7 linked regions of the Homo sapiens genome follow. The protein of the gene in region 5 purifies or fractionates together with the protein of the main gene of each other region. This does not show direct contact. Each region holds a gene or a part of one and is shown on either strand. Other genes may lie near its edges.

Evidence for each region.
Region 1: the proteins of ISY1 (region 5) and CWF19L1 purify together in Homo sapiens (affinity purification with mass spectrometry, with the first as the bait; one large-scale study listed by BioGRID). This does not show direct contact.
Region 2: the proteins of ISY1 (region 5) and GCFC2 purify together in Homo sapiens (affinity purification with mass spectrometry, with the first as the bait; one large-scale study listed by BioGRID). This does not show direct contact.
Region 3: the proteins of ISY1 (region 5) and GPATCH1 purify together in Homo sapiens (affinity purification with mass spectrometry, with the first as the bait; one large-scale study listed by BioGRID). This does not show direct contact.
Region 4: the proteins of ISY1 (region 5) and CPSF3 fractionate together in Homo sapiens (co-fractionation; one large-scale study listed by BioGRID). This does not show direct contact.
Region 6: the proteins of ISY1 (region 5) and DHX35 purify together in Homo sapiens (affinity purification with mass spectrometry, with the first as the bait; one large-scale study listed by BioGRID). This does not show direct contact.
Region 7: the proteins of ISY1 (region 5) and ACOT9 purify together in Homo sapiens (affinity purification with mass spectrometry, with the first as the bait; one large-scale study listed by BioGRID). This does not show direct contact.

The regions. Positions count from the first base shown.
Region 1 is NC_000010.11:100,257,639-100,261,138, reverse strand, and holds part of CWF19L1 (CWF19-like protein 1), read left to right. Parts: intron 1-94; coding exon 95-173; intron 174-819; coding exon 820-921; intron 922-3,500.
Region 2 is NC_000002.12:75,669,416-75,672,915, forward strand, and holds part of GCFC2 (intron Large complex component GCFC2), read right to left. Parts: exon of another isoform or gene 2,901-3,500; intron 2,602-2,900; coding exon 2,535-2,601; intron 870-2,534; coding exon 723-869; intron 1-722.
Region 3 is NC_000019.10:33,087,681-33,091,180, forward strand, and holds part of GPATCH1 (G patch domain-containing protein 1), read left to right. Parts: intron 1-453; coding exon 454-588; intron 589-3,099; coding exon 3,100-3,185; intron 3,186-3,500.
Region 4 is NC_000002.12:9,444,154-9,447,653, forward strand, and holds part of CPSF3 (cleavage and polyadenylation specificity factor subunit 3), read left to right. Parts: intron 1-3,500. UniProt on the Homo sapiens protein: Component of the cleavage and polyadenylation specificity factor (CPSF) complex that plays a key role in pre-mRNA 3'-end formation, recognizing the AAUAAA signal sequence and interacting with poly(A) polymerase and other factors to bring about cleavage and poly(A) addition.
Region 5 is NC_000003.12:129,151,064-129,154,563, reverse strand, and holds part of ISY1 (pre-mRNA-splicing factor ISY1 homolog), read left to right. Parts: intron 1-3,500. UniProt on the Homo sapiens protein: Component of the spliceosome C complex required for the selective processing of microRNAs during embryonic stem cell differentiation. Required for the biogenesis of all miRNAs from the pri-miR-17-92 primary transcript except miR-92a.
Region 6 is NC_000020.11:39,035,344-39,037,782, forward strand, and holds part of DHX35 (probable ATP-dependent RNA helicase DHX35), read left to right. Parts: intron 1-2,439. UniProt on the Homo sapiens protein: May be involved in pre-mRNA splicing.
Region 7 is NC_000023.11:23,740,477-23,744,603, forward strand, and holds the start of ACOT9 (acyl-coenzyme A thioesterase 9, mitochondrial isoform a precursor), read right to left. Parts: upstream 2,801-4,127; 5' UTR 2,669-2,800; coding exon 2,649-2,668; intron 1-2,648. UniProt on the Homo sapiens protein: Mitochondrial acyl-CoA thioesterase. Catalyzes the hydrolysis of acyl-CoAs into free fatty acids and coenzyme A (CoA), regulating their respective intracellular levels. Regulates both mitochondrial lipid and amino acid metabolism.

The sequences.
Region 1 (3,500 bases), on a different chromosome or scaffold from region 5:
TGAAACTATTAAATAACTAGTTGAATATTACTATCAATTATGTACTGTTTGATATTTTAAAATCTCATATATCTGTTTAAAAAACTCATTTTAGCTGCTGTTGTGTGTAGGAAATTTCTTTGGCTCCACCCAAGATGCTGAATGGGAGGAGTATAAGACTGGCATCAAGAAAGGTATAGAAATTATTTTTATTTAACATATGATTTCTAATAAAATTTCAAGGGCCAGAGTTCTTGCAGAGTTGTTTTTCATTATTTAAGAATTTAAGAGTTATTTTCAGTATTTAAGAATTTAAGTTGCTTTTCATTATTAAGACTATCCGGCGCAGTGGCTCACACCTGTAATCCCCGCACTTTGGGAGGCCGAGGCATGTGGATCACCTGAGGTCAGGGGTTCAAGACCAGCCTGGCCAACATGGTGAAACCGTGTGTCTACTAAAAATATAAAAATTAGCAGGGCATGGTGGCGCATGCCTGTAATCCCAGCTCCTCGGGAGACTGAGGCAGGAGAATTGCTTGAACCTGGGAGGCGGAGATTGCAGTGAGCCGAGATTGCACCACTGCACTTCACCCTGGGCGACAGAGCAAGGCTCTGTCTCAAAAAAAAAAAAATAAAATAAATAAAATAGCCAAGCTACAAGGTTGGGTGTAGTATATCCTTAGTGGATAGCTGTTCCACATTTAGGATTGCTAAATATGGGGAATGTGAATGCATGGACTATTTACTTTTAATATAAGTATTTTTTCTATAGAGAGGCATATCTTAAGTTCTAAAGCAGATCTGGTAACTATATGGTGTCATGTCTGTTTCCCTCACTAGCTCCTATTCAGACATATGTGCTTGGTGCTAATAACCAGGAAACAGTAAAATATTTCCAGGATGCTGATGGATGTGAATTAGCTGAAAACATTACTTATCTGGGTAAGCTGATACTTGTTGTATTTTTTTTTTGTTTTTTGTTTTTTGTTTTTGAGACGGAGTCTTGCTCTGTCACCCAGGCTGGAGTGCAGTGGCGCAATCTTGGCTCACTGTAACCTCCACCTCCCGGGTTCAAGTGATTCTCCTGCCTCAGCCTCCTGAGTAGCTTGGATTACAGGCGTGTGTGACCATACCCGGCTAATTTTTTTTATATTTTTAGTAGAGACAGGGTTTCACCGTGTTAGTCAGGATCATCTCGATCTCCTTACCTCGTGATCCGCCCACCTCGGCCTCCCAGAGTGCTGGGATTACAGGCGTGAGCCACCGCGCCTGGCCGATATTTGTTGTATTTGTAATGAACATAATATAGTGTTCTCAGGAATTAGTCTCCCAGGAAATTTTTGGCTAGATTTTTCAGTGATTGCAGCCTGAGATAATGGGGTTTGGAGGGTTTTTTCCCAGAGTCTGTATATGTGCTGCTGTGCCCTTAGGACAATGCCTTTAGGACAGTGGCATTTTTTCTTTATTATTTCTACCACTTAGCCCCAATATCGTTGCGTTCCCACAACCCGGTACACACTTGTTTAGCCAACTGGAGGGATAAACTCCTTGTCTATAGTATATGGGATACTTAAGGTATAAATTATGTTCACACAAAGGAAATTTCATGTATGTGGCTTTACCATACAATCTTGCTAGGTATATACAGCTTACTTGTTAATGAGCCTCCCAACTATTTATAGCTCTAGGTTTCACTCTAAGGTTTTGGCAACTCAGGTTTTTAGTGCTGTTCTTTGGGGGCTTTTTACTCTTTTTTTACTCTCCTTTTTCTGGTTCTAGGTACACTCTTCAGTTCCAGCTTAAAGTTGTTTCCTCCACAGCCCTCTGTATTGCTTTTAGTGGCTCTTTCAATGTCTGGCTGTTTTCAAAAGCACTGTCAAATTTTGCTTTTGTTTTCCCCCCACCTGCTGGCAGTCTGCTGCCTCTTAGATCATTCAACTCTTTTTTTTTTTTTTTTTTAAGACAGTGTCTTGCTCTGTTGCTCAGGCTGGAGTGCAGTGGCATGATCTCGGCTTACTGCAACATCCGACTCCCTGGTTCAAGTGATTCTCCTGCCTCAGCCTTCCGAGTAGCTGGGATTACAGGCACGCACTACCATACCCAGCTAATTTTTGTATTTTTAGTAGAGACGGGATTTCACCATGTTGGCCAGGATGGTCTCGATCTCCTGACCTGGTGACCCGCCTGCCTCAGCCTCCCAAAGTGCTGGGATTACAGGTGTGAGCCACTGTGCTCGGCTTTTTTTTTTTTTTTTAGTTGAATTTACTATTCTTCACATTTCCTCCTTGTTGGTCTTATTTCTCTAGAAAACTTCTTCATTTCCTTTGCTGTAAATGTCCTCTCTCTCCTTCCCCATCATAGTTCATCTTGGCCTTTAGTCTTTATTTGGCTATGGCCCTCCCGTTACCAGTCTTATTTTGCACTAATCCTGTGGGACTTCTTTAAGCAAAAATTGAAGGAAGGACTTTATTTGTTTTGTTGTTTTAATATGGAACTCTTCATGAATTTGCATGTCATCCTTGTGCAGGTGCCGTGCTAATATTCTCTTTATCTTTCCAGTTTTAGTATATGTGCTGCTGAAGTGAGCACTGTTTAGTTTTAACTACACATATCAGATACGCATTTTGAAATTCTGTTGTAGATTTTAACATGAGCCTGACTTATGCAGTTCTTGGTATAGTTTGTAGATTTGGATTAAGGGCATTACTGTAGATATTTGGCAGCCATTTTACTATATGAATTTAGTGCCAGGAAAGGAAAGAGCAGCTAAGGTACTTGGGTTATTTCTGTGAAATAGATTTTTTGGATCCAGTAGGAGGATCAAGCAGTGAACTTGGTAGTGAACATGTGATAGTGAGCTTGAAATACTGGTAGGACATCCAACATATAGTTGGAAGTGAGAGTTATTATTATTATTTTTTGAGATGGACTTTCGCTCTTGTTGCCCAGACTGAATTGCAATGGCATAGTCTTGGCTCACTGCAACCTCTGCCTCCCGGATTCAAGCGATTCTTCTGCCTCAGCCTCCTGAGTAGCTGGGGTTACGGGTGTGTGCCACCATGCCCGGCTAATTTTGTATTTTTTAGTAGAGACAGGGTTTCACCATGTTGGTCAGGCTGGTCTCGAAATCCTGACCTGAGGTGATCCAGCTGCCTCAGCCTCCCAAAGTTCTGGGATTACAGGCATTAGCCACTGTGCTGGTCCGAGAGTTCTTTCTAGAGTATCAGTGTTGAAGAGTATAGGCTTTGGAGAGTTGGTCCCATAATGATGAAAAATAGAGCTGAGAAGAGGATCAAATTATTAAGGAAGAAATACAATCAGAAGGGAAGCAGGTTGATGATAGTACCTTGGTGGGTGGGGATGGTATATCTTCATCTAGGGGGTAGGAACAAAGACATAAAAGTGCTTAGAGGACTGTTTGAGAGGTAAAGATATTGTCAACTTCATGGAATCTACTGAAGATAACATAGTTTCAGGAGAACATTGGCAAATATAGGGTGACCTTTAAGAGAGTGATGGGA
Region 2 (3,500 bases), on a different chromosome or scaffold from region 5:
TTTTCAAATTTATTACTTTTTCTCATAATTTCTTCTTTTGCCTTTAAGTTTAGAAGGAACTCCCTCACTCTCAAATATAGTCATTTACCATCTTAGTATATTTTATAGTTTCATTTTTACATTTTTTAAAATTTTACCTGAAATTTTTTTGGTGTATAGTGAGAGGTGAGGACTTAACATTCTTTTTGTAAACAGCCAGCCATCTAGCATCATTTATTAAGTAATTTTTCCTTTCCCTACTGGGGATATTTCAAACCAGTATACTCTTTCTTAAATACAGAAGAGCGGCTCTGCATTTTAGCTTTGTTAAATTCATTTGTCAATTTTTTTTTTTGAGATGGAGTTTTGCTCTTGTCACCCAGGCTGGAGTGCAATGGCGGCTCACTGCAACGTCTGCCTCCTGGGTTCAGGCGATTCTTCTGCCTCAGCCACCCAAGTAGCTGGGATTACAGGTGTTAGCCACCGCACCTGGCTAATTTTTGTATCTTTAGTAGAGACGGAGTTTCACCATGTTGGTGAGGCTGGTCTCAAACTCCTGACCTCACGCAATCCGCCTGCCTCAGCCTCCCAAAGTGCTGGGATTACAGGCATGAGCCACTGTGCCTGGCCCATTTGTCTATATATGAGTACCACACATTTAATTATTTTGCTAAATAATAGATTTTAATAGCTAAATTTTTTAGAAATGATAAAATTAGAATCAGTCTTCCTTCACAACTTACCTGGTTGCACTTTTTAACCACATCTGGCCCAGGTGTGGCATTGAGAAGTGCTATAATAAGGTAACGATTTAGCAGCTTCCCTAGTCCTAGTTCTTGCAAGGTGTCATCTGTAAGGAGTCCATTCCAAAGAAGAATATTGCGGAAGAGCTAAAATAAAATATCAAGTAAATATGTACCTTTTCTCCAAAGAGAAACTGTAATAGTCTCTAACAAACATGAAGAGTTGGTCAAACTAAAATTCTCACTACAATTAGCCCTGTTGGAACTGTCAATTTTAGAATACAATATCTCTGAATAAATACTTGATTCTTTCCAAACTCCATGTATTTGCTCATCTTATTTTCATTTTCTAGGATAACCATCCCCAAATCTATCTCAAATAACTTCACTAGAGCCTTTCCAGATCAATAATCTTCCTTCCCAATCCATTTTCTCTCAAAGCCGGGGGCCATCAAGTATAAGACCACAGGACCACGTGATTCATAAAGAACTACTGTCAAAACTAGGGCCGCCATTACCAACATGTGACCTTGAGAAGGCAATCAACGCTGAGAGCTTCATTCCTCTGATACATAAAGATTTATAATCACCTTTGAGTTTGAAGATAACTTGGATTAAGTAACCATAATAAATTCTAATAAAATATTGGTTGTCCTTTCCCTCTACTAAATTCAGATCTTTCTGTGAATTTTAAGGTGTTTCTTTTTTTGCAGTACTATATTCATTACTCTGAGTGCTGAACTACATGCTGTTTTACTAAAATGTAATGCTTTTTCACATTTTATCTCATTGTTGATGTTGTTCCCTCTTCCCAGAAAGCCTTTTCCCTGATTCAACCACATGACAAATATTAATTCACACTATTAAAACTACTCTTGGTGAGGTCACCTATATCCTTCTAATTGTCAAATCCAATAAACAGTGTTTCAGTCTTTCTCTTAATACTCTTTGGTGGCATTTAACACTCTTTTCTTCATTCTTGAAAATCTTTCATTTAGCTTCCTTGAGGCCATTCTCTTGTGATCATCCTAAGGCTCATAATTGATTCTACAGATTCCCTGAAGCCTCCATGTTCTCCTCTTCTGTTAGTATTTCCCGAGGTTCTGTCCTTGGCCTACTTCTCATGCTTCATCCAGTCTCCTTACGCAGCTTGCCATTCATGACCATGGCTCCAAATATTACCTACAGGTAGTGGACTCCCAAATCTCTAGCTCAGATCTGTCTCCTGAAATTCAGACTTATGTATCCAACCACCTCCTAGACCTCTGTATCTCTATTTGTCCCACATATATCTTCATTATGTACAAAATAGATCTTATCTTCCCTTGATCAGTTATCGACTCCTTTCAATGCTTCCTCCCAAACATTGTTTGAACCTTCTTCTCCTTCTCATCCCTACTGCCACTGACTTAGCAATAATTTTAAGGCCAGGGGTTAGCCAACTATATAGCTTGTGGGTTAAATCCATCCTGTTGCCTGTTTTTATAGGGTCCGTGAGCTAAGAATGGTTTTAACACTTTTCAAGGACGTTTTAAAACTGTCTTTAAACAAAATATTTTGTACCATGAGGAAATTATATGACATTCAAATTTCAGTGTTCATAAGTTTTATTCAAACAGCCATGTTCATTTGTTTATGTACTATGACTGTTTTTGTGCTACAGCGGCAGAGTTGAGTAATTCGACAGAGACCATGTGACCACAAAGCCTAAAATACTATCTAATTCTTATAGAAGAAGTTTGTTGTTCTTTGTTCTATAGTAAACAGGATTTTTACAAAAATTGCCTTTTCATTTTTGCAGTTTTTGCTCACCTTTAGGCCTGACCAGAACTGTCTTTCTTGGAACTTTGAATGAGGTGATGTTTTGTTTTCTACAGCACTAATTAGAAACAAACGAAAGAGAAGAGAAAATGCAAAGAACTATTAGTCTTTCAGAACCAGAGTTTAAGATCAGACTTTCTTTTAAACCAACCAAACTAAGCCTTAATGGAATATAAATAGAGATTGTTTATTTTATTTTATAAATAAAATATATATTTATTTATAAAATATATATTTATATATTTATAAATATGTTTATAAAATATATATTTATATATTTATAAATATGTTTATAAAATATATATTTATATATTTATAAATATGTTTATAAAATATATATTTATATATTTATAAATATGTTTATAAAATATATATTTATATATTTATAAATATGTTTATAAAATATATATTTATAAACAAATAACTAATATATCACATTCATACATCTGAACCATGTGAATGCATTATCTAAAACATTATAAACAAAGTTTACCAAGGCAGAATTTTTACATGTAGACATCTCATGATTCAAAATGAATCAGAAAGCTTTGAGGTTCCTTTCTTCCCCCTCCATAAAGCTCCTCCATCCTGTCACTACTCACTGGATTGCTACAGTTCATGCATCATTATAACTGATGGCTTCTTAGCAAAGTTATGATCATACATCAAATACTCGTTTTATAATTTAAAGTGACTGCAGAATTTACAGGTGCAGTTTCTCGTTCCTCAGCATTGTGCTTCCTCTGTGCTAGGCCCTGTTGTGTTCTGAGCATTCTCTTCATCTCCCTAATATCCTGTGAGGTAGGCACTAATTTTATCCTTATTTTATAGATGAGAAAACAAGTGCATAAAAATACCTACTAACAGTGGACGTGTGCTCTTTACCACTCTATATCACCTGCTATGTTCCTAGGATATATGTAAAACCAAAACCAAAACCAACCAAACAAAATTCAT
Region 3 (3,500 bases), on a different chromosome or scaffold from region 5:
TAATTTTTTTTTTTTTTTTTGGGGGAGAAGTCTCGCTGTGTCTCCCATGCTGGAGTGCAGTGGTGTGATCTCGGCTCACTGCAACCTCCACCTCTCGGGTTCAAGCGATTCTCCTGCCTCAGCCTCCTAAGTAGCTGGGATTACAGACGTCTGCCACCACGCCCGGTTAATTTTTGTATTTGTTAGTAGAGCCGGGATTTTGCCATGTTGACCAGGTTTTGTAATGGAATTTAGTGGGAAAAGAGGGCAATCATTATTACATAAGCTTATAAAATATATTGTTTTCTAGGCTATATAAAGCAGTAAAGTCTAGGAATAACAATTTAAATGATTATATTTGAATTATAAGAAGTAAACAATTTATGATATTTAAAAAGTGACATTTTCCCTAAATTTGAACCGACCATCTCCTCTCTTTTTCATTTAAAAAACTTTTTTTTTTTTTTTTTTTAGGTGAAAGACCAAAGAAACCAATCCCTCTTCAGGATCAGACTGTCAGAGATGAAAAAGGAAGGTATAAACGATTCCACGGGGCCTTTAGTGGAGGTTTCTCTGCTGGATACTTCAATACTGTTGGCTCAAAAGAAGGTATCATTTTCCTAATTGTAGCTATTATACCATTAAAGCAAATGATCAAAATATTGATTCTCCCTCACCCTTGCTTTTTTTTTTTTTAATTTTGAGACAAGAGTCTCGCTCTGTCGCCCAGGCTGGAGTGCTGTTGTGTGATCTTGGCTTACTGCAACCTCCGCCTCCTGGATTAAGCGATTCTCCTGCCTCAGCCTTCCAATTAGCTGGGATAACAGGCGCATGCCACTATGCCTGGCTAATTTAAAAAAAAATACTTTTAGTAGAGACAGGAGTTTCACCATGTTGGCCAGGCTGGTCTCAAAGTCTTGACCTTGAGTGATCTGCCCACCTTGGCCTCCAAAAGTGCTGGGATTGCAGGTGTGAGCCACTGCACCCGGCCACCTTTGCTTTTTTTTTTTTTTTTGCGATGGAGTCTTGCACTGTTGCCCAGGCTGGAGGGCAGTGGTGTGATCTTGGCTCACTGCAACCTCCGCCTCCCGGGTTCAAGCGATTCTCCTGCCTCAGCCTCCCAAGTAGGTGGAATTACAGGCGCCTGCCACCATGCCCAGCTAATTTTTTTTGTGTTTATAGAGACAGGGTTTCACTATGTTGGCCAGTGTGGTCTCTAACTCCTGGCCTCAAGTGATCCGCCTGTCTTGGCCTCCCAAAGTGCTGGGATTACAGGTGTGAGCCACTGCGCTCAGCTTTCTCTGAACATACACTGTAACCTCTTGTGTTCTTTGGATATTTGGATGTTTCCAGAGTCAACTTGTATCTTGTTCATTGATTGCAACCTTATGGTTAAAGAGTTTTCTTTCACTTTGTAAAAAAATGCATACCTCCTAATCAGATGATTAAATGATAATAATGACTTTGGTTTTTATTGTGTCTTGCCATTCACGAAATACTCTTAAACAGAGTCTTTCAGTTAATCATTGACTGTCTCTCGTGACTGAGTGAGTGAGGAGGGCAGGTGTCACAGGGATCTTGCAGATGATGCCACCAAGGGTCAGAGAGGTTAAGGAGCCAGCATGGCGTTAGTGCTGAGGGAAGAGTCACCAGGTGCCCTCTTCAGACACTGGGGACCACAGCAAGACTGGCTCCTCAGTGCTCTCTACCTGGGGAAAAGTCAGTTAAATCTTTTATGTTATGTACTTTTATAAATGCCAAGTTGTTTAAAGTATTGTATGTTTTAAGATATATTAATCTAGAAGCATTTTTTTGAACTGGAAGAAATGGCTTTCTATATCTCAGTTATGAATGGAAGATGAACTGATTTTATTATATGTGCTGCCATAGTGAGCACGGAAGATGAACTGATTAATTCACATAGCAATTATCAAGAAAAAGATGGGCTAGATCTTTTATAATTTTTTTTTTTTTTTCCTGAGATGTAGTCTCACTCTGTCGCCCAGGCTGGAGTGCAATGGCATGACCTCGGCTCACTTCAACCTCCGCCTCCTGGGTTCAAGCAATTCTCCTGCCTCAGCCTCCCGAGTAGCTAGGACTACAGGTGCCCGCCACCACACCCGGCTGATTTTTGTATTTTAGTAGAGATGGGGTTTCACCATGTTGTTCAGGCTGGTCTCGAACTCCTGACCTCAAGTGTTCCACCCGCCTCAGCTTCCCCAAGTGCTGGGATTACAGGCGTGAGCCACCATGCCCGGCCTTACCATTTTATTTAATTAATTGATTTATTTTTTGAGACAGGGTCTCACTCTGTCGCCCAGGCTTTAGTGCAGTGGTGCACCTACTGAGAGTAGACCTTCCCCAGATGCCTCAGCTCACAGGGCCCTTGGAGAGAATCAGGAAGGAGGTGCAACCCTCTTAGAGAAAACTAAACAACTTTATGTGCAGAGGTTACAGACATATGTGACCTCCAGAGCATTCCCTGTTTGTGGACGTGGCACATGCTCGGTAACCGTGGTCAGGGAACAAGGCCATTGGTTACAGGATTCCAGTGTCTGTTGAAACTGGGGGACTGGCAGAGCCGCTGCCCTTGGACCTGCCAGGTTGAGTCTTTGGTCAGGGTACTGTGAATGTTGCCTGGATTCCTTCTGTTACTCTCTCTTTATCCACTCTGACTGATTAAAACACCTTGACATCATATCTTTACACTTGATCTTAGCCAAAAGGCCTAGAAGCGATGACATCATTTCTTTAGATATGTTAATATGCCAGTGGAGGTTGCTGGTCTCACGTCCTGCATTTTAAGGTGACCTTGCATCTGTCAGCTCAGATCTGCTTGTGTTCATTTCACAGTTTAACTTTCAATGTGTAATTCTATATCTCTTGGTTTCACTTTCTTATGGGGAAACCTTAATGTATCCACTAAGTTTTACATCAGGGGATACAGGGATTAATAAGAAATTTATGTGGAATAATTACGTCTATATAAGCACTGAGATGGGAAGTAGCTAAGAGTTTATAGTTATTGGGAATTTCAAGTCCATACATGTTATTTAATCATTTACTCATAGACCCAAATACTCTCTAGGATTGTAAAGTTCTAAACTCTTTTTTTTTCAGGATGGACACCCTCTACCTTTGTGTCTTCACGACAGAACAGAGCAGACAAATCTGTTCTTGGTCCTGAAGATTTTATGGATGAAGAGGTGCGTGTGCAAAACTTTAATTGCCAATTAGCTGGTGGGACAGGTCTAGTTGGTTGCTGTAACTGCCTTCTCTCTCCCCAGAAGGTCCAATGTACGATTTCCTCTTTGTTTGTAAGGCTTTATCTTTTAGGTATTTGATGTGCAGTGTCCTGTACATCAGTAGAGTCTTGTTCATTGGAGGAGCATTTTATACTGGGGCCAATTTCTAAAATCAAGAGTGTAAGGGGAAAGTCATATACAGGCAATTTACTTGAAAAGCCTCGTGGCTGGGTGCGGTGGCTCACGCCTGTAATCCCAGCACTTTGGGAGGCCGAG
Region 4 (3,500 bases), on a different chromosome or scaffold from region 5:
ATATATTTTTTTTTTTTTTGAGGCGGAGTCTTGCTCTGTCACCCAGGCTGACTGCAACTCCGCCTCCCGGGTTCAAGCAGCTCTCTGCTTCAGCCTCCTGAGTAACTGGGATTACAGGTGCCCACCACCACACCCGGCTAATTTTTGTATTTTTAGTAGAGATGGGGTTTCACCGTCTTGGCCGGGCTGGTCTTGAACTCCTGACTTCATGATACACCCGCCTCGGCCTCCCAAAGTGCTGGGATTACAGGCGCGAGCCACTGCACCCGGCCGACTTACTTATATTTTTAAGTATCGTGTAACTTATTAAAAATAAGTTAGATATTTTGATGGAATTGGAAAGGAGGGGTAAGCTGAAAAAAGTGTGTATTTTTAATTAGAAGAACACTAATGAAGCATGTGTCCATAGAAAATAGATGACGTGCCCTTTCCAAATGTATTGGAAAGCAGGAGAAATGGCCTTTTGTTAGTTTTGTTTGTTTGCTTGTTGTTTGGGGTGTTTTTTGGTTTGTTTGTTTGTTTGTTTGTTTGGATGAAGTCTTGCTCTGTTGCCTAGGCTGGAGTGCAGTGGCGCCAATCTCAGCTCACTGCAGCTTCTGCCTCCTGGGTTAAAGCAATTCTCCTGCCTCAGCCTTCCGGGTAGCTGGGATTACAGGCACGTGCCACCACGCCCAGCTAATTTTTGTATTTGTAGTAGAGACAGGTTTTCACCATGTTGGCCAGGCTGTTCTCAAACTCCTGACCTCAGGTGATCTGCCCGCCTCGGCCTCCCAAAGTGCTAGGATTACAGGCATGAGCCACTGCACCTGGCCTTGCTTGTTGTTTTTTAAATACGTTTTACTGTGGTAAAATATCTAACATAAAATTTGCAGTTTTAACCATTTTTAAGTGTACAAACCAGTGGCATTAATTATATTCACAGTGTTGTACAACCATCACCACTGTCTATTTTCACAGCTTTTCATCACTCCAAGCAGAAACTCTGTACCGTTACACAGTAACTCCCCATTCCCTTCCGCCAACCCTGGTAATCTCAAATCTACTTTCTGTTTCTATGAATTTGACTATTCTAGGTATTTCATATAAGAGGAATCATAATGCCTATGATGTTTTCAAGGTTCATCATGTTGTGGCATGTATCAGCACTTCATGCCGAAGTCATGGTCCGTTATATGTAGACCACATGTTGTTTATCCATTCACCTGTGGGTGGACACTCGGGTTGTGTCACTTTACAGCAAATGTGAAGTGGTATCTCGTTGTGGTTTTTATTTTCATTTCTCTAATGACTAATGATGTTGAGCACCTTTTCATGCAGTCTTTTGTTCGTTTTTGAGTTTTTTCTAGCATGATAGGCCTCACAGGTATTTGCCACTGGCCCTTAATGAGCAGATTATTTGGTCAAGAAAAATCACTCTCCTGTCTATAGCATCACAGTGTGTAGGGTTTAGTCACAGAGTAGGCTCCTCCCAGGTGTTTCTTATTGTCTGTGTGCATGAACACTCCCCCAGATTTCCAAGCCAGGGAGGAAAAGCCGAATTGCTCTTTTGTGTGGTGTCACCACCTCATCCTCAGCCCCATTTCATCCTGTCACTCTCCTGGTTCTACTTCTGCTGACAGTTTAAGTTCCTGGGTTGAACTTCATGCTCATTTTCTTGTGATAACCAGCTCCAGCAAAAGTATAGCTGCAGGATAAAATTGCAATACTAGTAGTGTTGGTGGTAGTAATGAATACTAGCTAACATTGATTATTTACCATGTGCCGGACACTGTATATGTGTTTTATATGAACTGACTTGCTTAATCTTCATGACCGACAGCTGTTCTGCAGATGAGACAACTGAGGTGTGAAATCACTTGGTCAAGGTTACACAGCTTAAATAAGCAGCAGCACCAGGATTCTGTTCAGGCAGCCAGGCCCAGGCCCTTCCCCAGCAAGCAGTAAGCCCCTGCCACGTGCTGGTGCTGGCTATGCCCAGCCACAAGCCATCTACCACATGTGAGAGGCTAAGAACAATCTATCTTGGCCGGGCTGCAGTCCCAGCACTTTGGGAGGCCGATGTGGGTGGATCACTTGAGGCCAGGAGTTCGAGACCAGCCTGGCCAACATAGTGAAACCCCATCTCTACTAAAAGTATAAAAATTAGGCAGGGCACGGTGGCTCATGCCTGTAATCCCAGCATTTTGGGAGGCCAAGGCGAGCAGATCACGAGGTCAGGAGATGGAGACCATCCTGGCTAACACGGTGAAACCCCGTCTCTACTAAAAATACAAAAAAATTAGACGGGTGTGGTGGCAGGTGCCTGTAGTCCCAGCTACTCGGGAGGCCGAGGCAGGAGAATGGCGTGAACCTGGGAGGCGGAGCTTGCAGTGAGCCGAGATCACGCCACTAGACTCTAGCCTGGGCGACGGAGCGAGACTCGGTCTCAAAAAAAAAAAAAAAAAAAAGTATAAAAATTAGGTAGGCATGGTGGTTCACACCTGTATCCCAGCTACTTGGAGGCTGAGGCATGAGAATCCCTTGAACCCTCGAGGCAGAGGCTGCAGTGAGCCAAGATCACGACACTGCACTCCAGCCTGGGTGGCAGAGTAAGACTGTCTCAAAAAAAAAAGAACAATCTGTCTTGTAAGATAGAAGTTACAAAAGTGAATGGAAAGGGACTGGTAGCTAATGCTGTTGTTGTAAATACCCTCTAAAATATTCCATTTGGGGCTGAGCACAGTGGCTCATGCCTGTAATCGTACCACTCTGCAAGGCTGAGGTGGAAAGACTGCCCAGAAGTTTGAGACCAGCCTAGACAACATAGTGAGACCTTGTCTCTACAAGAATAAAATAAAACTAGCCAAGCATGGTGGCTCATGCCTGTAGTCCCAGCTACCTGGGTGGCTAAGGTGGGAGGATTGTATAAGCCTGGGAGATTGAGGCCACGGTGAGCCAAGATTATGCCACTGCACTCCAACCTGGGCAACAGAGCAAGACTCTCTTTAAATAAAGAAATATATAAAGTAATAAAATGTTCCATTTGGTTCTGAAATATTTTATTAGGATAGGTACAGTGGCTCACGCCTATAATCCTAGCATTTTGGGAGGCCAAGATGGGCAGATCACTTGAGCCCAGGAGTTCAAGACCACCTTGGGCAATATGTGAGACCGTGTCTCTACAAAAAATACAAATATTAGCCGGGCATGGTGGCGTGTGCCTGTAGTCCCAGCTACGTGGGAGGCTGAGGCAGGAGGATTGCTTGATCCCTGGAGGTTGAGGCTGCAGTGAGCCATGATCACATCACTGGACTCCAGCCTGCGCAACAGAGTGAGACCCTGTCTCCAAAAATATATCAATATATGAGGTAGGCCAGGCACAGTGGCTCAAGCCTGTAATCCCAGCACTTTGGGAGGCCAAGGTGGGTGTCAAGAGTTCGAGACCAGCCTGACCAACATGGTAAAACCCCGTCTCTACTAAAAATACAAAAAATTAGCCAGGCATAGTGGCGTGTACCTAT
Region 5 (3,500 bases):
TTACAGACAATGTTATGCCCATAAATTTGACAACTTAGATGAAATAGGTCAATTCCTTACAAGACACAAACTGCCAAAGCTCACTTAAGAGAAGTGGTCCTTTTTTTTTTTTTTTTTTTTTTTTGAGATGGAGTCTTGCTCTGTCACCCAGGCTAGAGTGCAGTGGCGAGTTCTCGGCTCACTGCACTGGGTTCAAGCAATTTCTCCCTGGGTTCACCTCCCTGGGTTCAAGCAATTTCTCCTGCCTCAGCCTCCCGAGTAGCTGGGATTACAGGCACCCTCCATCATACCTGGCTAATTTTTTTTTTTTTTTTTTTTTTTGAGACAGAGTCTCGCTCTGTCACCCAGGCTGGAGTGCAGTGGCGCCATCTCAGCTCACTGCAGGCTCCGCCCCCCGGGGTTCACGCCATTCTCCTGCCTCAGCCTCCCGCGTAGCTGGGACTACAGGCGCCCACCCCCTCGCCTGGCTGATCTTTTGTATTTTTAGTAGAGATGGGGTTTCACCGTGTTAGCCAGGATGGTCTCGATCTCCTGACCTCGTGATCCGCCCGCCTCGGCCTCCCAAAGTGCTGGGATTACAGGCGTGAGCCATGGCGCCCAGCCAAATTTTTGTAATTTTTTAGTAGAGACAGGGTTTCACCATGTTGAACAGGCTGGTCTTCAATTCCTGACCTCAGGGGATCCACCCTCCTCGGCCTTCCAAAGTGCTAGGATTACAGGTGTAAGCCACAGTGCCTGGCCGAGAAATAGTTCATTTTGTTTTGTTTTGTTTTGTTTTGAGACAGAGTCTTGCTCTGTTGCCCACACTGGAGTGCAGTGGCATGATCTTGGCTCACCGCAGCCTCTGCCTCCCGGGTTCAAGCGAATCTCCTGCCTCAGCCTCCTGAGTAGCTGGGCCTACAGGCGCCCACCACCATGCCCAGCTAATTTTTTTTTGTATTTTTAGTAGAGACGGGGTTTCACCATGTTAGCCAGGATGGTCTCGATCTCCTGACCTCATGACCTGCCCACCTCACCCTCCCGTAGTGCTGGGATTACAGGCTTGAGCCACTGCGCCCAGCCCTGAAGAAATTTTTGATTGTTACAACTGGAAGGGTGCTACTGGCACATAGTGGGTAGAGGCCAGGGATGTGCTAAGCCTCCTACAAATAATTATCCTAAATAAACTACAGTGTCAATAATTCTACTGTTTAGAGACACAGTTCAAAAAGAAATGGTAAACCTGAGTAGTCCTATATCTGTTAAAGAAATTGGGGCTGTGCACCGTGGCTCACGCCTGTAACTGCAGCACTTTGGGAAGTGGAGGTGGGTGGATCACCTGAGGTTAGGAGTTCAAGACCAGGCTGGCCAACATGGTGAAACCCTGTCTCTATGAAAAATACAAAAATTAGCCAGGCATGGTGACGCATGCGTGTAATCCTAGCTACTTGGGAGGCTGAGGCAGGAGAATCACTTTAACCCAGGAGGCAGAGGTTGCAGTGAGCCAAGATTGGGCCACTGCACTCCAGCCTGGGTGACAGAGCGACAGTCCATCTCAAAAAAAAAAAAAAAAAAGATGGAAAGAAATTGAATTCATTTCTAAATACCTTTCTAAAAGAAAATTCCAGACCCAGATGGCTTCACTGGTCAGTTCTACTAAATATTTAAGGAAGAAATAATACCAACTCCACATAGTTTCCTCAAGAAAATGGAAGAAGAGGGAACACTTTGTAACTCATTTTGTGAATTTTAGTATCAGCATTACCCTGATGCTAAAATCAGAAAAAGATATTATGAGAAATAACTACTGACAATATTTCCTATGAATATAGACAAAAATCTTTAATGAAACATTAGCATATCAAACCTAGCAATGTATGGCCGGGCGCGGTGGCTCACGCCTGTAATTCCAGCACTTTGGGAGGCCAAGGTGGGTGGATCGTGAGATCAGGAGATCGAAACCATCCTGGCTAACACACGGTGAAACCCCGTCTCTACTAAAAATACAAAAAAATTAGCCGGGCGTGGTGGCAGGTGCCTGTAGTCCCAGCTTCCTGGGAGGCTGAGGCAGGCGAATCGCTGGAACCCGGGAGGCGGAGCTTGCAGTGAGCCGAGATTGCACCACTGCACTCCAGCCTGGGCGACAGAGCGAGACTCCGTCTCAAAAAAAAAAACAAAACCTAGCAATGTATAAAAAGGATAATACATCACAACTAAGGAGGATTTATTCTGGAAAAACATAGTAGATTCAGCATTCAAAAATAAGTTAATTCACTGTGTCATTCCAAAGAAGAAAAACTGTATGATCTAAGTAGATGCAGAAAAAGTATTTGACAAAATTAGACGTTTATTCATGATAAGAACTCAGCAAACTGGGAATAAAAGGGAACTTTTTACCCTGATAAAGCACTTCTTTTTTTTTTCTGAGACGGAGTTTTGCTCTTGTCACCCATGCTGGAGTGCAGTGGTGCAATTTCAGCTCAATGCAACCTCCGCCTCTCAGGTTCAAGTGATTCTCCTGCCTCAGCCTCCCGAGTAGCTGGGATTACAGGTGCCAGCCACCACGCCTAGCTAATTTTTGTATTTTCAGTAGAGACAGGGTTTTACCATGTTGGCAAGGCTGGTCTCGAATTCCCAACCTCAGGTGATCCACCCACCTTGGCCTCCCTAAGAGCTGGGATTACAGGCATGAGCCACCACACCCGGCCCTGATAAAGTACTTATAAGAAACCCATAGCCAATAAACTATTTAATGGTGAAGGATTGAATGCTTTCCTCTTAAGATCAGGAACGAGGCAAAGACATCCACTCTCACCACTATATTCAGCGTGATGCTGGAAATCCTAGCCAGTGCGGTAAAGTAAAAAAAGGAAATAAAAGGCATAAAGATTAGAAAATAATAAGTAAAACTGTCTTTATTGTAACATAGAAAATCCTATATAATTTTCTTTTTTTTGAGATGGAGTCTCGCTCTGTCACCCAGGCTGAAGTACAGTGGTGCAGTCTCGGCTCACTGCAACCTCTGTCCCCTGGGTTCAAGCGATTCTCCTGCCTCAGCCTCCTGAGTAGCTGGGACTACAGGCATGTGCCACCATGCCCGGCCAATTTTTGTATTTTTACTAGAGACAGAGTTTCGCCATGTTGGCCAGCCTGGTCTCGAACTCCCAACCTCAGGTGATCCACCCGCCTCTGCCTCCCAAAGTACTGGGATTACAGGCATGAGCCACCATGCCCACCTAAAATCCTACATAATTTTCTATGTAGAAAATCCCAAGGAACCTACAGAAAGACTTCTAAAATGGATAAGTGAATTTATCAAGATCACAGAAAAGAAGTTCAATATACAGAATTATATATATACACACACACCCCATATATATTCATATATATATTTTTATATATTTATATATATTTTTATATATTTATATATTTTATATATTTATATATATATATATTTTTTTTTGAGACAGAGTCTTCCTCTGTCACCCACGCTGGAGTGCAGTGGCCCAGTCTCGGCTCAC
Region 6 (2,439 bases), on a different chromosome or scaffold from region 5:
TTACAGGTGTGAGCCACCACGCCCAGCTCCTTTTTTAAAAGGGTTACAGCCCTGTGCTGTTTGTGGCCTGAAAATACTTGCTTTACATATTTTGCCCAAGTTTACTGTTGTTTACAGCAGAAGAGAAAGTCTGAAACCTTTTTCTCCATTAGGGCCAGAATTGGACTACACAATGTTTCCAAAGCGATATTTGAATTGATTGCCACATTGAAAAATTGGGAGATTTCATATTAAACATGAATTTCTGGTTTCTCTTGAAAGACATGTTTAGTCTGGCAACACTAGGCTTGCGTTCCTACGTGGTGGCATCACAGGGGCTTAGGGGTGGCTGCCTGCTGTTAGTGACATCGCCAGGTGCCGTAGTCCCATGTCACTTGCTTACTTGCCTGCTGCACTCTTGGAGACATTTGAATTTGTGACCCTGTAAATGGAAGGATCTCCTCATCTCTCCTGCTCCAGCAAAGTCAAGGGACATTGCCCTCTCAAAATTTTATAATATTTAATTTTTATGTAATCAAACAAAAACCATTTCACACCTTTATAGTTCTTCACACATCCCAATTCAGATATTTCAGCTGGAAAGCAGATCAGCCTGCAGGGACTGATAAAAATGCAGTGTGTGTTGTCTTTGCTGAATTAGGTTGATAAGAATAAACCTGGTGAAAGAAAGGCTTTTCCTTCAAAACCTCTCAGGTGGAAAGCAGCAGACTTCAGGAGTCAAGAGAAGGGATCAGAAAGGTAAACTAGAGGTTGAAAGAGGAATGGTGCAGTGGTCAAAATGCCTGTTAAAGTAAGAAGATGCAGACAGCCAGAGAAGGATAAGCCTGAAATTGTCTTGGATTCATTTAGACTCTTGGAAACAGAATTAGCCCAGAAGCTGAGTCATTTTCCCTTCTCAGCTCAAAATTCCAGTTTCTTTAGGTCAAACCCACAAAGTTAAAGAGCAAATAGCTTCAGAAATTTGAAGAAAATAACAAGCCCAAATTTCTTCATTTGTCTCTTCTCTCCAAATGGCTTTTTTATTTTTAAGCTCATCACCTCCACTGTCATCGGAGTATTTTTAGAGAGGCTGGGACAGACCTTTAGAAATCACCTAGTGCGGCCGAGCACGGTGGCTCACGCCTGTAATCCCAGCACTTTGGGAGGCTGAGGTGGGTGGAACACATGAGGACAGGAGTTCGAGACCAGCCTGGCCAACATGGTGAAACCCCGTCTCTACTAAAAATACAAAAATTAGCCGGGCATGGTGGCATGTGCCTGTAATCCCAGCTACTTGGGAGGCTGAGGCAGGAGAATCACTTGAACCTAGGAGGTGGAGGCTGCAGTGAGCCGAGATCACACCACTGCACTCCAGCCTAGGCGACAGAGCAAGACTGTCCCCCCAAAAAAAAAAAAAAAAAAAAAAAAAAGAAATCACCTAATACAACAACCTCATTGTATAACGATGGTCCCCAAACCACAGAGAAACTTGTGTTGTTTCTTAACTGTATAGTCCAAGGGCACTTCTACTATTAACTTGTCCAAAGCAGATTGATTTCTCAAAGAACCTCCAGATCTACAGGGGTTGCCCATGTATGGTAGATGTTCCTTTACTGAACACAGTGCAGCACCTCACAACCTTCCACAGCCCACAGATCATTCACGGCTCTGTTCCTGGCACCTTTGGAGACTTTCCATCACCACTGTTTTTCGGAATGTTGCTCTCACCCTGTGTGGAGGCCTGAAATGGTTCAGAGTCAGCTTTGTTTATATTCAACATTCTTCCCAGAAAAAAGCACCAAAAATGGCCCCACAGGCACAATGGCGTCATCTCCCATCCCCAAGCTAAGGCCGTGGATATCTAACATTAGCTGTAGGGGTTATATCAGGTGACGTGTAGAGAGAGAATTCAGAGAAATTCAGCAAGACCTACAGCTAGACAGGGGAAGAACGGGGTGACCTATTCAGAGATTTGCCTTCTGGCTTTTAAATTATTTTTCCTTATTCTCAGAGATATCTTCATTATTAGGGAAAACCCTTTTAACGAGGCCTTTGCAAGAGCCTGTAGTAGTCCTCCCTCAGGTGTAAGCAGATGGAAAGTCTGAGTTCTTGTAGCTCATTTATACCCGGGTCCTGTTCGCTCTGTTGTCTCTCACGTCATACCTGGTGGTGCGCTGTGTCTTCGTTCACGCCCTCCATTTTTTCAGGGCCTGCAGTTCTCTCTGGGGGCGATGCGGCTTGATGTTGTGGGGCCATGTGGCTGTGCTAAGTAGTGGGCACACCAGCTCCGGAGCAGTCAGGGTGGGCATTCTCATGTGAGGCTCCCACTGTGTGTTAGTTGGCACGGCTTAGGGATCTCTTGGTTATTGATGATTAGTAATGGGCTGTCGGGTATATCCCAGTTGATGAGTGGAGGGAGGTCTTTCATTAAAAGCTTGTATTTACACACTCTGCCTCAAA
Region 7 (4,127 bases), on a different chromosome or scaffold from region 5:
GCGGGCGTGGGAAGGGTTGGAATACATTTTTGCTCACACACACAATGGTATATACTATTTCAGGAGGTGCACAGACCCTTTTTGTACCCTCAGATCCCCCTATATTTGAAGATTCTGATTCAAACCAACCTCCTTAAGAAACTGAGGCCCCAGTTTCAGACGACTTTCCCCCAGTGCCAGTCAACAGGCACACCAGCAGAGTCCAGATAGAGCCCAGTTCTTCCGATCTCCCCCAATACATACACACACACACACACACACACACACACACACACACACACACACACCGCACTGAGGTGGAGGAGGTGGGAGAATGGTTTTAATCAATACTCAACACTTCAGTACCTCAGGGTTACTGGCTTATCTCCTGATAAGCCCTCAGGAGTCTTACTTATAGCAAAACCTCTAGGCCTTTACTGTGGAGAGGCCTTTGCAACACTCAAATCCCAGGACCTTGTAACTGAACCTTTCCAATCAAAGGAGATCAAGAAACTCAAGGCGGGGGGAGTGGGGAGGGACAGCATTAGGAGATATACCTAATGCTAAATGACGAGTTAATGGGTGCAGCACACCAGCATGGCACATGTATACATATGTAACTAACCTGCACATTGTGCACATGTACCCTAAACTTAAAGTATAATAATAATAATAATAAAAAGATGATTATTACAAAAAGACAAAAGATAACAAGTGTTGGTGAGGATGTAGAGAAAAGGGAACCCTCGTACACTATTGGTGAAAATGTAAACTGGTACAGCCATTTTGAAAAATAATGAGGCAGTTCCTCCAAAAATTAAAAATATAACTACCATATGATCCAGCAATTTCTCTTCTGGACATATATCCCAAAGAAATAAAAAAAGTATTTCAAAGAGAAAAAAAAAAAAGAAAACTCAAGGCCTCCATGGCCTACCTGGGGAGTCACATAACTCACCCTGGCTCAGCCCTGGGTCCCAAGCTTACAGCAGTTGGCAAGGAAGAGTGTTCAGTGCAATAACAGGCAATACCACTCATATGCCCTCCACTCTGAGGAAATAACCTCTATTTAGAGACTAAACAAAGGTGCCTCTTGCAAGTCTAAAAAAGAAAAGAAGCTACAAAGGTTGCCCACCAGTCAAAGAACCTAATCATCTCAGTCTATATTCATTTGTGAACTCCTCCTCTCACTAGACACTAAGAGATTATCCGCTTAAGGTTCAATAGTTTTTTGTTTGAGACAGAATCTCACTGTGTTGCCCAGGCTGGAGTGCAGGGGCGCGATCTCAGCTCACTGCAACCTCTGCCTTCCGGTTCAGGCGATTCTCCTGCCTCAGCCTCCAAAAGTAGCTGTGACTACAGACATGCACCACCACTCCCGGCTAATTTTTGTATTTTTAATAGAGACGGGGTTTCACCATGTTGGCCAGGCTGGTCTCGAACTCCTGGCCTCAAGTGATCCATCCACCTCAGCATCCCAAAACGCTGGGACTGCAGTCGTGCACCACCACACCCGGCCTCAATAGAATTTTCAAGAAAGGAACACAGGGTTATAAGAGAAAGCACCTGAACAAGACCATGGAGCTTTTGTAGAAGACCTTTCACATTGCAAGCTAAAGTCAACTGTGGCCCCTCTCATAATGACTTTCAGTCTGCCTTCAAATAGTTTAACAAAGGTTTTTTGTTTGTTTTTAAGTACTATAAACAAGACAGAACCCTTACAACTGATAACAAAGTCCCCAGGAACAGTGAGTGAGTGAGAGAGAGAGAGAGAGAGAGAGGGAGAGAGAGAGAGAGAGAGATATCCAGGACCCCCAAGAGAATTGATGGGGTTAATGTGAGTCAAAAGCACTATGAGTCACATCAGGGGGACAGGCCCACTGGCAGCGAGATAACTTCAGAAACTGGAGCAGGTGTGAGCCCCCTGGGATGCAGCCAGGCAGAAAACTTGGAAAGGGTGGCATGCTCGGGTGAAAGGGATTAGGGAGAGCTAGACACGCTCTGGAGTCTAAGGCCCTCAGGCCTTAACTGTGCCAGCTGGGAAGATTACATATACAAAAAGGCATCCTCCCTTACCCACGTGGCCCAATCAAAGCACCCAGCCTCTTATAAGGGCTTTGCGGCTCATTAAAGTTAAGTTCAAATTGGCACCAGGGTCCTAGACGCACAGTCCTAGGGTCCTGGGAGCCAAAAGGTACCCTGTAATCTCTGCCAATGTTACAACAAACTTAAGTAAGAGCCGAAGTAGGTCAAGCATTTAATCCTAAAAATGTTCTCCAAAGGAAGATGAAGGGCTAGAGGTAACATAGAACTCCAAATATTATCTTTCTGACAAGGGGCTACCCCGACGCGGCTACCAACCACACCCCGGATGAGCAAGGCCAAAGGAATTTTAGGGAACACCCAACTTCCTCCCTTAAAAGTGCTGCTTTGCTTTTAATATCAAACTCAGTGCTAGAAGTCGCCAAAGTGGGGGCGAGGTTCTCCCAACCAAAGGCCGGCGGGCTTATGTCCGGTCGGAGGTACAGTGGGCGAGCGCCCCTTATCATAGAGCCCAAATGCCCATGCGTGGCCCACTTCTTCCGCCGGGGCCAGCCCGAAGCTCTAGGGGAAGACGATGGCACCCCAGGCTACCGCCCTGCCAGCCCCTTCCACGCCCCGCCACCTACCGCAGTGCTGCCCGCCTCATTGCGCTAGGCTGCCGTGCGCGCGATGGAGAACCGGGCCCCGCGCGCTAGTCGGCGGAGGGAAACTGAGGCGATAAAAGACGCACGAGTACCAGACCGCGCCCTTGCTGAGGACAGCCCGGGAGCCGGACAGCGGTGTCCGGGGGCGGGACCGCGGCGTCCAGGGGGCGTGGCCGCGCTGTGCCGGGCGGACCCTACCCGTTCATTGGCGGGAGGCTGGAGTCCGCCTCTGCGGAGCTTCCCACTCAATCAGTTGTGCGGGTCGTGTTGCTACAGCGAGGACCGGCCTATTCTCGGTTGAGTAAACGAACCACGCAGCAACGCCAGGGCGTGACGTCGAGAAGAGGCCCGGCTCTGCCTAGTGGAGCTTGTCTCCTTTATCCTTGATCCCCGCGCCTTGGCTCCGTCTGTTCTTCCCCTTGGCTGCACATTGGAATCTCCTGGGCAACTTTCCAAAATACTGATACTTGGCCGGGCGCGGTGGCTCACGCCTGTAATTCCAGCACTTTGGAAGGCCTAGGCGGGCAGATCACCTGAGGTCAGGAGTTCAAGACCAGCCTGGCCAACATGGCGAAACCCTGTCTCTACTAAAAATTCAAAAATTAGCCAGGCGTGGTGGCAGACGCCTGTAATCCCAGCTACTCGGGGGACAGGCACGAGTATCGCTTGAACCTGGGAGGCGGAGGTTGCGGTGAGCCGAGATCGCACCACTACACTTCAGCTTGGGCGACAGAAGGAGACAATGTCTCAAAAAAAAAACAACAAAAAACTGATGCTTGAGACCCACTGGCTGGAGATTCTAGTTTAGTCCTGGGTGCGGTCTGGGCTTCGGGATGATGTCTAAAGATGCCCCCAGGTGATGCTAATGTAACCAAAGGCTAAAAACCACTGACCTAACAGGAAAAAATTGTTCCTCTCCTCTTCTCGGCCTGACCCCCAATGTTTGATATCTTGGGCGAGCTAGAGAGATTCAAGGCCAGAGAGTTTAAGATTATTTCACCCTACGATCTAATTCTCCATTTCTTTCAACGAATTATTATTGAGCTGTTTGCATTGTGCCAGGCACTATTGCAGAGGTTGGGGTTGCAAAAAGAAAAAAGGACAAAAATCCCCGCCCTTAAGGGGCTTGCCTCTTGATAAGGAAGGAAAACAAATCAACAAACAAGTTAGCAAATAACATGATCTCAAATATGGTAAAGCGGTTTAAAGGGGAAATAAGGTAACGAGTGGGGATCTTTTGAGAATATAAGCAAGTCTTGCTTTGCCTCTAAATACGGCAATTTCCTAAAAGGCAAGGGCCATATGCTTTTTCGCAATACCCCATACTTAGTAAAAATGTATTGATTTGAATTAAGCTAGCTTTCTGTTTTGAATCACTTCATGAGTTACACATGGAGCATGGTCTTCGGCTTTCTCTTTCTACTGAATTTTCCCTGCTTTTATCAATCTCACATCTGGAAG